Linked DNA regions of Homo sapiens. The protein of the gene in region 2 purifies or fractionates together with the protein of the main gene of each other region. This does not show direct contact. Each region holds a gene or a part of one and is shown on either strand. Other genes may lie near its edges.

Evidence for each region.
Region 1: the proteins of AKR1A1 (region 2) and SLC7A14 purify together in Homo sapiens (co-immunoprecipitation; one large-scale study listed by IntAct). This does not show direct contact.
Region 3: the proteins of AKR1A1 (region 2) and TRIP12 purify together in Homo sapiens (affinity purification with mass spectrometry; one large-scale study listed by BioGRID and IntAct). This does not show direct contact.

What each region holds. Positions count from the first base shown.
Region 1 is NC_000003.12:170,477,947-170,481,597, forward strand, and holds part of SLC7A14 (solute carrier family 7 member 14), read right to left. Parts: intron 3,221-3,651; coding exon 2,343-3,220; intron 1-2,342. UniProt on the Homo sapiens protein: Imports 4-aminobutanoate (GABA) into lysosomes. May act as a GABA sensor that regulates mTORC2-dependent INS signaling and gluconeogenesis. The transport mechanism and substrate selectivity remain to be elucidated.
Region 2 is NC_000001.11:45,564,298-45,567,948, reverse strand, and holds part of AKR1A1 (aldo-keto reductase family 1 member A1), read right to left. Parts: intron 1,381-3,651; coding exon 1,261-1,380; intron 1,081-1,260; coding exon 929-1,080; intron 1-928. UniProt on the Homo sapiens protein: Catalyzes the NADPH-dependent reduction of a wide variety of carbonyl-containing compounds to their corresponding alcohols.
Region 3 is NC_000002.12:229,915,510-229,919,160, forward strand, and holds part of TRIP12 (E3 ubiquitin-protein ligase TRIP12), read right to left. Parts: intron 1-3,651. UniProt on the Homo sapiens protein: E3 ubiquitin-protein ligase involved in ubiquitin fusion degradation (UFD) pathway and regulation of DNA repair.

The DNA.
Region 1 (3,651 bases), on a different chromosome or scaffold from region 2:
CTGAAATATTTCTACCCACTTCCATCACTTCTATCCAGAGTAGAATCTGCATTGGCTAGCTACATGTTCCAGTGGAAAAATGTTTAGAGATAAGAGATTGTATTTTTTTAAAAAGTTTTAAAATATTAATTTTTTTAAAAAAATTTTTTGAAATGGAGTCTTGCTCTGTCTCCCAGGCTAGAGTGCAGTGGTGTGATCTCAGCTCACTGCAACCTCCATTTCCTGGGTTCAAGCAATTTTCCTGTCTCATCCTCCCAAGTAGCTGGGATTACAGGCACTTGCCACCACGCCTGGCTAATTTTTGCATTTTTTATAGAGATGGGGTTTTGCCATGTAGGCCAGGCTAGTCTCGAACTCCTAAACTCAGGTGATCTGCCCTCCTCGGCCTCCCAAAGTGCTGGGATTATAGACGTGAGCCACTATGCCCAGCCAAGAGATTGTAAATGTGTTATAAAAATTGGTTAAAATCTTGATGAGTCAGTGGGGTCCTCTCAAGAAATCCTCCTGAAGTCTAACCAGGGGGACTTAGAATAGTGAAAAATTGGGACAAAATGCTTACAGGAAGCCATAGAGCAGCCTTCAGAAGCAAGGAGTCAGGCCTCTGGGGAAGACATATGCCCTTTCCATTGGTTGCTACTTTTTCCCCCACTTCTTTCTATCTATATCTTAACTTATAGGGCCACTTTGTATTCTACCCCCTCCAAGTTTTTTCTGGCAATTCTGACTGGAAGTTTTCCTTTTTCCCCTTTGAAGAGTACTTTATAATAATTTAAGAAGTATTTTTGAGCACATACTGCGGGCACCCTGCTCCAGACACGGAGGACACATGTTGAACAAGTGTATTCCTGATCTCTAGGAGTGGATGCACTGCCACTCATCACTAAGAGTCTCTGTGGGCTGGGCACAGTGGCTCATGCCTGTAATCCCAGCACTTTGGGAGGCTGAGGTGGGCAGATCATGAGGTTGAGAGTTCGAGAACAGCCTGGCCAACATGGTGAAACCCTATCTCTACTAAAAACACAAAAATTAGCAGGGCATGGTGGCACTCACCTGTAATATCAGCTACTCAGGAGGCTGAGGCAGGAGAATTGCTTGAACCTGGTTGGCGGAGGTTGCAGTGGGCCATGATCAAGCCACTGCACTCCAGCCTGGGCGACACAGCAAGACTCCATCTCAACAACAACAAACAAAACAAAACAAACAAATAACAACAACAACAACAACAACAAAAAGAGTCTCTTTGGCCTCTCTTGGGCTAAGTGACTCGTGTGTTTGTCTTGCCTCTCCTTTAGGCAGGGTTTACTCTTCTATTCCCCAGAGCTTCTAAAGATCCTCTTTAGCTAAGAATTTGTTATCAGAGACCCCAGGGTTACCAAGTTGTTCAGAGGACATACAAATAGTGACTAAGGAACTTTAAAATGAGTCTTCCATTACACTTCTCAAGTTCTTACTAGCATCAATCCCCAGCCACCTCATGAACATCAGAGATTGTCCTAGATGATAAGCAAGTACTGCAAATACAATAGAAATGGATCACAAAGTAAAATTAGAAATCTTAGAGAAGGTACAGGACTTCTTGAAGTCCGTGAAAGTGAGTTTAGAGAACAATTTGAATTCACACCCAAAATTGTAGACAATTGAGGACCTAACAGAGTCATATTAGTTATTACCAGCAGGAGAGAGAAAATCAGTAAGGATGGTGGCATGATGGGTACTTCCCAAGTGAATGATTGGAATGTCAATGAATGAAGAAAGGACCTTGGGAAATATGAAAAACTTTTGAATATTTTACAAAAGTCAGTATGAAGTGAGAGATGTTAAATGATGCCATGATTCAATTTTGTCAGAAAAATTATGCCAAAAAATCCACACTTAATTCACACCTTGTTCATTTAAAAATGAGAGCATAATTGCTATTTTAATTTAATTTTGTGAAATCTAAGATAGTTTTTCATTTTACAATTCTTAGTTTCTATGATAAAATTCCATCCAAATGCCCTGACCCCAATTATACTATGCTATTTTTGTCACCTTAAAAATGTGGATTCACTTTAAGTGGACTTTTTCTGGTATTAATTATCCTGATATAGAAAGAACTTTCAGTAATTCAGTAAAGCGATGGATTAATCAACATCATTTTTCCAGAACCAATGACTAAGAACATTACAGGCAGAAAGGGGACAACTGGCTTTATTGACTCTTAGGCGGAACACAAGGGTCCATAGAACCAGCCAGATTTCTCTGGGAACGGAGTTGCCTAGTCCAGCTAGGAGGTAATTTTGGGATAAGCATGCTTAAGACCTTAAAAGGGAACTCTTAAGGCTCCAAAGGAAGTTGCTTACCCACAAAGCACCAGACCGCAAACCGGATCCATGTGATGGTGGAGAGCTTTAGCATGAGATAGATGTTCACCAGCATGGCAAAGGCAGGCACAAAGGGGAGGCAAGGGGCCATGTAGGGCAGCTTCTTGGGGTTCTCTGGCTGCTGCAGGATCACAAACACCAGGGTGCTGATCAGCAGCACCATCAGAACAACCAGAAGGATGGCCCACCAGCTCTGCTCTGAGATGTAGTCAGAACCAAAGATGATGAAGGAGCAGAAGATGAACATGAGGATGAAGAGCAGGAGCACGCAGATGGTCACCGTGTGCCCCGTCGCTGCTGTGGGCCGGTCCATTTTGCCTGGAAGGCCCAGCCGGATTCTCATGGTGTAATAATGAGGCCCAATCAGCTTCTTTAACTTGATGAGATAAATATTTTCGGATTCATCAGCTTCTATGCCTGTGGTCATGTCCACGGTGCCGTAATTGGGGTGGTTGACGTTGTAGGTTGACTTGTCTGATTTCCCTATGAGCATCTCATTGTCTCCCAAGGATGGTAAGTTCTTGGCCCCACATGTGTTGGTGGCTGGGCCAGAAAACTCATCCCCCTCACTCACAGGAGAACAAGCTTCCTTCTCACAGTCAGCCAGAATGCCCTCCTTCTTCTTGGTGTGCTCCTCAGACAAGAACTTGACAAAACCATCAATGTCACTCTCAGGTTGGTATCGAAGGAGCAAGACACAGACAGAGACCAAGGTGTAGGCCAGGAGCGTGCCGATAGACATCATCTCTATCAGGTCTCTCAAGCTGACCAACAGTGCGAGGAGCGCTGCCAGGAACCCCGACACGATGCAGGCCACCACTGGTGTCTCTGTGTAGGAGCTGACGTGAGCCAGGAACCTGGAGGGGCCGGGCAAGCAGAGGGTTAATGGTGAGCTACAGTGACCGATTCCAGTGCAGCCAACATAGGGAGCTAGAACTATCAATAGGCTGGTGTGATTAACTCCTCCTGGTCCTGCTCCACCAATTTACTTCTGCATTCACTACTTTAAATCCAGCTGCTATTCCTACCCCAGGATTTGGTATATAATTAAAAAAGAATTCACTTTAAATCTTTGATTTCTTTTTTTTTTTTTTTTTTGGTGAGATGGTGTCTCACTCTGCTTACTCTGTCCCCCAGGCTGGAGTGCAGTGGCGTGATCTCAGCTCACTGCAACCTCCACCTCCTGGGTTCAAGTGATTCTCCTGCCTCAGCCTCCCGAGTAGCTGGGATTACAGGCATGCACCACTACACCCGGCTAATTTTTGTATTTTTAGTAGAGACAGAGTTT
Region 2 (3,651 bases):
CAAATGCCAGGCTTCTACCCTACCTGCCCATCCAGCCACTCTATGTCCCAAACTCCAATCCCAGAGAGGACAAAGGGCCAAGAATTTTTAAAAAGCCATGCTTTTTCTTTTTTTTTTTTTTTGAGATGGAGTCTCGCTTTACCGCCCAGGCTGGAGTGCAGTGGCACTATCTCAGCTCACTGCAAGCTCCACCTCCTGGGTTCACGCCATTCTCCTGCCTCAGCCTCCCCAGTAGCTGGGACTACAGGCGCTCACCACCACGCGCAGCTAATTTTTTGTATTTTTAGTAGAGACGGGGTTTCACCGTGTTAGCCAGGATGATCTCGATCTCCTGACCTCGTGATCCGCCCGCCTTAGCCTCCCAAAGTGCTGGGATTACAGGCGTGAGCCACCGCGCCTGGCCAAAAAAAGCCATGCTTTTTCATCCTTCCAGATCGTAACCCAGGTGTTAAGTTTACATGGAATGCCTATGCCCCCTCCTCTTCCTAGACGTAGATATCTCCTCTCCCCTAGGAAGTCTTCCTTAACTCATCCTCAGGGAGTTATCCACCCTTCTTCCAGCACAGGGCACGGCACTAATGGTGAGCTCTTCTCACATCTTCTGCTGAGACTTACTTATTACTGTAACCCCAGGTGCTCAACAGAAAAGTCAGCACCTTTTCTAAATGAATAAAGGGAGCAGGAGGGTTACAGGTGCATACCCTGGGGTACACACCATGTGAGACTGCCTTCCTTTTTCCAGAGTTAAACTCCTGTAGCTACAGCTAAGCTGCTGTAGCAGAAGAGGCTAAGATCCCATGTCAAGCTCCTCAGCTTGGCATGCAAATGAGTGTTCCTATCCTGCTCTGCTGCTGTGACTTACAATAAGTTACTAACACCATCCTGCTCAACCCCCTGATTCCCCAGATGAGGCTCTGGCAAGGCTCACTCAAAGGCATAAGGCCAGTGCATCAGGTACAGGTCCAGATACTCCAGCTGGAGGTCAGCCAGAGTCTTCCGGAGGGCAGGCTCCACATCCTCGGGGTGGTGCTTGGTGTTCCACAGCTTGGATGTCACAAACAGCTCCTCCCGAGGCACCGCCTAGTGCAGGGGGCAGGGCCCACAGTGAGAAGAGCCATGAGCACGTGGTCTCACCCACCCTCAACTCTGGGAGAGGAACTGGAAGGAAGCTGATGCCAGATTCCCTCCAGCTGGGCCCCAGCCCTAGCTTCAGCTTCTAAGTTCTCTTATCCCACCTCTATTTACAACCCCAGTCCTTACCTTGCCTGGTCCCACGTCCTCCTTCAGGGCCTCCCCAATCTCAGGCTCATTGCCGTAGATAGCAGCACAATCAATGTGGCGGTAGCCTACGCTAAGGGCATACTTAACAGCTGCTTTTACCTGCCAGGTGAGAGAAGCAGAGGTTTCAGCTATGTTGGTTTCAGCCTTCTACTGTCACCACCCCAAGGTCAATGCTGGGGGAAGGGGGCTCAGAAATATAACAGGCACATCTATGCAGTGGAGGTGAAAAGATGGAAGATGAACTGGGCGCGGTGGCTCACGCCTGTAATCCCAGCACTTTGGGAGGCTGAGGTGGGCAGATCCCCTGAGGTCAGGAGTTCGAGACCAGCCTGGCCAGCTGGAGGTCAGCCTGGCCAACATGGTGAAACCCCATCTCTGCTAAAAATACAAAATTAGCCAGGTGTGGTGGCAGGTGCCTGTAATCCCAGCTACTCAGGAGGCTGAGGCAGGAGAATCACTTGAACCCAGGAGGCAGAGGTTGCAGTGAGCTGAGATTGTGCCACTGCACTTCAGCCTCGGCAACAAGAGCGAAACTCCATCTCAAAACAAAGAAAGAAAAAAAAAAAGATGGAAGATGGTTTCAGTCTAAGGGACCAGAAGCCTCTTCAGAGGCTCCAAACCCTTTGCTCTGCTCCCACCCCAACCAGTCTCTAAGATGCCTTCCTACCCAAGCCATCTCAGCAAGGTCTAGCAAAAACTAACAATATTTTCCCGGCATCTACCATAAAGAGGGCTTCAGTAAATATTTTTTCAGGCTGAGCACAGTGGCTCACGCCTGTAATCCTAGGACTCTGGGAGGCTGACATGGGAGCATTGCTTGAAGGCAGAAGTTCAAGACCAGCCTAGTCAACATAGTGAGACCCCCACCTCTTTAAAAAAAAAAAAAAAATTAAGGCCAGGCGTGGTGGCTCACGCCTATAATCCCAGCACTTTGGGAAGAAGAGGCAGGTGAATCACCTGAGGTCAGGGGTTTGAGACCAGCCTGGCCAACATGGTGAAATTCTTTTCTCTACTAAAAATACAAAAATTAGCTGTGCATGGTGGCATATGCCTGTAGTCCCAGCTACTCAGGAGGCTGAGATAGGAGAATCGCTTGAACCCAGGCGGGGGAGGCTGCAGTGAGCTGAGATCATGCCACTGCACTTCATCCTGGGCGAGACAGAGTGAGACTCCGTCTCAAAAAAACACAAAAAAAATAACAACAAAAAATTGAAAACAAATTTTTTTTTTTAAATAAAAGCCAGGCGCGGTGGCTCACACCTGTAATCCCAGCACTTTGGGAGGCCGAGGTGGGTGGATCACCTGAGGTCGGGAGTTTGAGACCAGCCTAACCAACACGGAGAAACCCCGTCTCTACTAAAAATACAAAATTAGCTGGGCGTGGTGGTGCATGCCTATAATCCCGGGTACTTGGGAGGCTGAGGCAGGAGAATCGCTTGAACCTGGGAGGTGGAGGTTACAGTGAGCCAAGATCATGCCATTGCACTCCAGCCTGGGCAACAAGAGTGAAACTCCTTCTCAAAAAAAAAAAAAAAAAAAAAAAAATGGCTGGGTGTGGTGGCTCACGCCTGTAGTCCCAGCACTTTGGGAGGCTGAGGTGGGTGGATCATGAGGTCAGGAGATCGAGACCATCCTGGCTAACACGGTGAAACACCGTCTCTACTAAAAATACAAAAAATTAGCTGGGCGTGGTAGGGGGTGCCTGTAGTCCCAGCTACTCAGGAGGCTGAGGCAGGAGAATGGTGTGAACCTAGGAGGCGGAGCTTGCAGTGAGGCGAGATTGCGCCACTGCACTCCAGCCTGGGCGACAGAGCAAGACTCCATCTCAAAAATAAAATTAAATAAATAAATAAATAAATAAAAATTTAAAAATTTTCAAAAATAAATAATTTTTTTTTTCAATCAGAAGACAGATGGATAAATAGAGAAAAGAAGTATAGACCATGGAAACAAGTTCCAGGTTCTAAGGAGCTGGTTAGAGAAACACAGGAAAAAATTCCTAGGCCAAGGACATACAGGGAGTTGTGTAGACAGACTCTGGGAACTCTGGGAGCACAGGCCAGCAAAAGAGGTTAGAAGGGGGAAAAGATTAAGGAAGGCAGATAAGTAGGCTGAAAGCTGGAGGCAGATAAGTGGGCTAAAAGCTGGACCCAGAACTCCCTAATGAGAGAGAAGAAAACAGGCATCAGATAGAAGGATGGGTCAGTTAATTTTGCTAAAATCCAGACTGGAAACACGGCATCAGCAGCAGAAACAAGGGTACCCGGCCCTAGACACAAAGCACCCAAAGCTCTTGTTGTGGGTGCCTGACATAGTATTCAAGATCCCCACCCGGGTGCCGACGTACTTCCCCTAACATCTGACCCCTGC
Region 3 (3,651 bases), on a different chromosome or scaffold from region 2:
TATTTTCACAAGACTTATTCTGTCAACAAACGCTTAATCCCTATCATGGGCCAGCTACTGTGCTAGATGCAGAGATAAAAAGGGACACTACTTGGGATTAGTGTCCTTATAAAAGTTAAAAAAAGGGTGAGGGCTAAAGACTTTAAAGAATTCATAATCAACTAAGGAATACTATTGTATACTAAAAAAAAAAAAAAATTTTTTGAGACAGGGTCTCACGGTCACCCAGGCTGGAGTGCAGTGGCACAATTACAGCTCAGCACAGCTTCCATCTCCCAGGCTCAAGCAATCCTCTCACCTCAGCCTCCCAGGTAGCTGAAGACTACAGGCATGTGCCACCATGCCCAGCTAATTTTTTACTTTTAGTAGCAACAAGGTCTCTACTAAGTTGCTCAGGCTAGTCTCAAACTCCTGGGCTCAAGTGATCCTCCTGCCTCAGCCTCCCAAAGTTCTGGAATTACAGGCATGAGCCACTGGGTCAAATGTTTCAAGTAGGATACCTATGCATATAACAGAGGTATGTTCGAGTTAAAAGAGTTTTAACAAATGAGGCAATGGTCCACAGTACTGTAAACAAGTGGAGAAAGGGCCTTGTGTTCCAATTCATCTGTGGAGCCTAATCTAAATACAGAATGTCTAGCATATAAATGACAACTGACTCTACATTAGGTGGTAATAATCAAATTTTTCAGATTAGGCACTTGAAGCTCACAAAGTACTAAGTTAAATTATTTGCCCAAGGTTACAAAGATGGGAAATGCATAGCCAGGATTGGAACCTAAGTCTTGCCTTCAAATCAGATAATCACTTGAACAGTGCTATTAAGGAAAACACACAGTAGCAGGTATTTTTCACTCTAGACCATTTGAATGACTTTTTAAATCAAGCATAACCATGATAGCCAAGTGTGGAGGTGCCCGTCTGTGATCCCAGTATTTGGGAGGCTGAGGCAGGAGAATCACTTGAACCTGGAAGGTGGAGGTTGCAGTGAGCCGAGATCGCGCCACTGCACTCCAGCCTGGGTGACAAAAGTGAGACTCTGTCTCAACAAACGAACAAGCATAACCATGAAACTGACTACTGCCAATAGCTTCTGCACTCTCAAGACAAAGCAGGTAAGCCTGAATAATGGGTAAGTTCCTTTTTCTTCTATCCAATTCAGTTTAATGAAATCACTGAAATCACAATAAACAACCAAAATCTAAAAGGCCTCAGAGAAAAATGACTGAACAGACTTATTTCAGTCTAGGAAACCTCTTTTTGCCAATAACCTAAAACTATCAGTAAGTTAGGATATTAAAGAACTACATTTTTAAAAAACCCAAGACATTAGCAGAGTTAAATTTTACTTAAAAAAAAAAAAAGAAAAATCAAGGGACAGGTCTAGCATCGGTATACTTATCTATTTATTACAAATAACAGCAAGCATCCATTATGCACAGAGAAACCCAGCAGAGAGGTAGAGAACAACTGCTTTGAGGTTATGTCTTCAAGTCTGTAACACAGCTGCTGAAATGATACACAAGTACCAAAAGAAAATACACAAGTAAAGCTTACATTACACTACACGTTAAGAATTACCAAGCACTGGCCGGGCGCGGTGGCTCACGCCTGTAATCCCAGCACTTTGGGAGTCCAAGGCGGGTGGATCACGAGGTCAGGAAATCAAGACCATCCTGGCTAACAAGGTGAAACCCCATCTCTACTAAAAATACAAAAAAATTAGCTGGGCGTGGTGGCTGGCACCTGTAGTCCCAGCTACTCGGGAGGCTGAGGCAAGAGAATGGCATGAACCCTGGAGGCGGAGCCTGCAGTGAGCCAAGATCGCGCCATTGCACTCCACCCTGGGCAACAGAGCGAGACTCTGTCTCAAAAAAAAAAAAAAAAAAAAAAAAAAAAAAAAAAAAAAATTACCAAGCACTAAGATTATATACAACAATCTAAAAATTATATTTATTCTGTAACATCCACCAGATTTTTACTCTTCCACCCTATCTGGCCTGGACTCTCCTCAGGCTTGGCCTTATTAACTAAAGCTTGGCCTATGAAAAAAGTGGCACAGAATAATCCACTGGCTTAACACTAAAACATGGCAGTGACAGTTGATATCCATCCAGGCACTCTAATGGCACGTTAGTCAGGGGAGATGTGAAGAGGCCCTGATCACTGAACCAACCAAGAGAAAGCATTCTGAAGAATCTGCTGGGGTCAAAGAACCCTTCCAAGCAGGTTGGAGTCCAGTGGCATGATCATAACTATTAACTTCAAATCTCTGGGTTCAAGCAATACTTCCGCTTCAGCCTCCAAAGTTGCCTAGAACTACTGATGCATGCCACCATGCCCAGCTAACTTTTTTTTTCTTTTTTGTGGAGACAGTCTCACTATGTTGCCTGGGCTACAACTCCTAGCCTCAAGCGATCCTCCCACGTCCTCACCTCCAGTGCCACCTCACCCAGACCAATCAGGTTTATTAGTATACCTTCACACATACCACATTGACATGAAATCATCCTTGCCCTCAGGAAGCCTACAGTCCAATCAGGGAAACAAAAGCAACACATGTCAACAAATGCAATACTGTAATGCAGAAACGAAGCAAGTACAGTTAATCAGAAATACAAAGATCACAGGTAGAAACTTGTTCGAGGAAGTGATCTGAAGACATGAGTTGTAAGTTGTTCTTCACATCCTTTATCTTCTATGTTTTTCTGTACATAGTGGGTGCTTGCTTGATTTAAATGAGGGAAAAGTCCATGTCAAACAGGCAATTGCAAGGAATGATTTCAGTGAAGATTAAAAAACCAAGTAGGTTGCTGTTTTGACTTGAGTCCATCAAATAGCAAACAAAAAAATAAAGGAGCAACTGGTATCACATTTGCTCAAAAAGATCCCTACCCATCCACTTAAAAGGGGGGAAAGTTCCCTAGGTTCTGTAAAGAAAACAGTGACCAAGATTCAGAAGCATTATTCCCTAATTGTAATCTCTTACATTAAGTCAATTTCATTAGAGTCACAAACCAGAACAGGTACTTTGTCAATAAAAAACGTAAATGAATTTGAAGTTTCTTTAAACATATTAACAAGTTTTTTCAGTAGAATGTATGGCAAACAAGTATCTGGCATGCTGATACCAAAAAAAGAAGGTAACTTTAAAAAGACAAAAATGAGACCCAAATTCTACTACCAATTAAGCAGCAATTTCAAATTATGAAGTTCTATAACTCTGTACCTTCAACCTAGTTTACATTAATTCTCCCCTGCCCCATGGACCACCACGACTAATGAGAAGCTGTATCTTTTAAAAATGACCTCAAAACAGCTCATGTAATTTTCTAAAATTAATTTATTTAGCATGTTGTTTTTTTTCAGTCATTACATCTGTTGGGTCTCACAACCACCCAGTGAGGTAAAATAGAGATTACCCACTCCCATTTTACAGATAAAATAAATGAAGACCAGATAGGTTAAGTGACTAGCTCAAGGTCACAAAGCTACTAACTGGTAGTGTGTGAATTTCCAAGCCAGTGATGTTTTCCTTGCTAAGATGAAAACCTTAAAATAAAGCAGGATATTAAAACCTTGTCTAGATAACATAAATACAATAATCTTACAAGTTACACTGGGGCCGGCGTGGTGGCTCTCCCCTGCAAT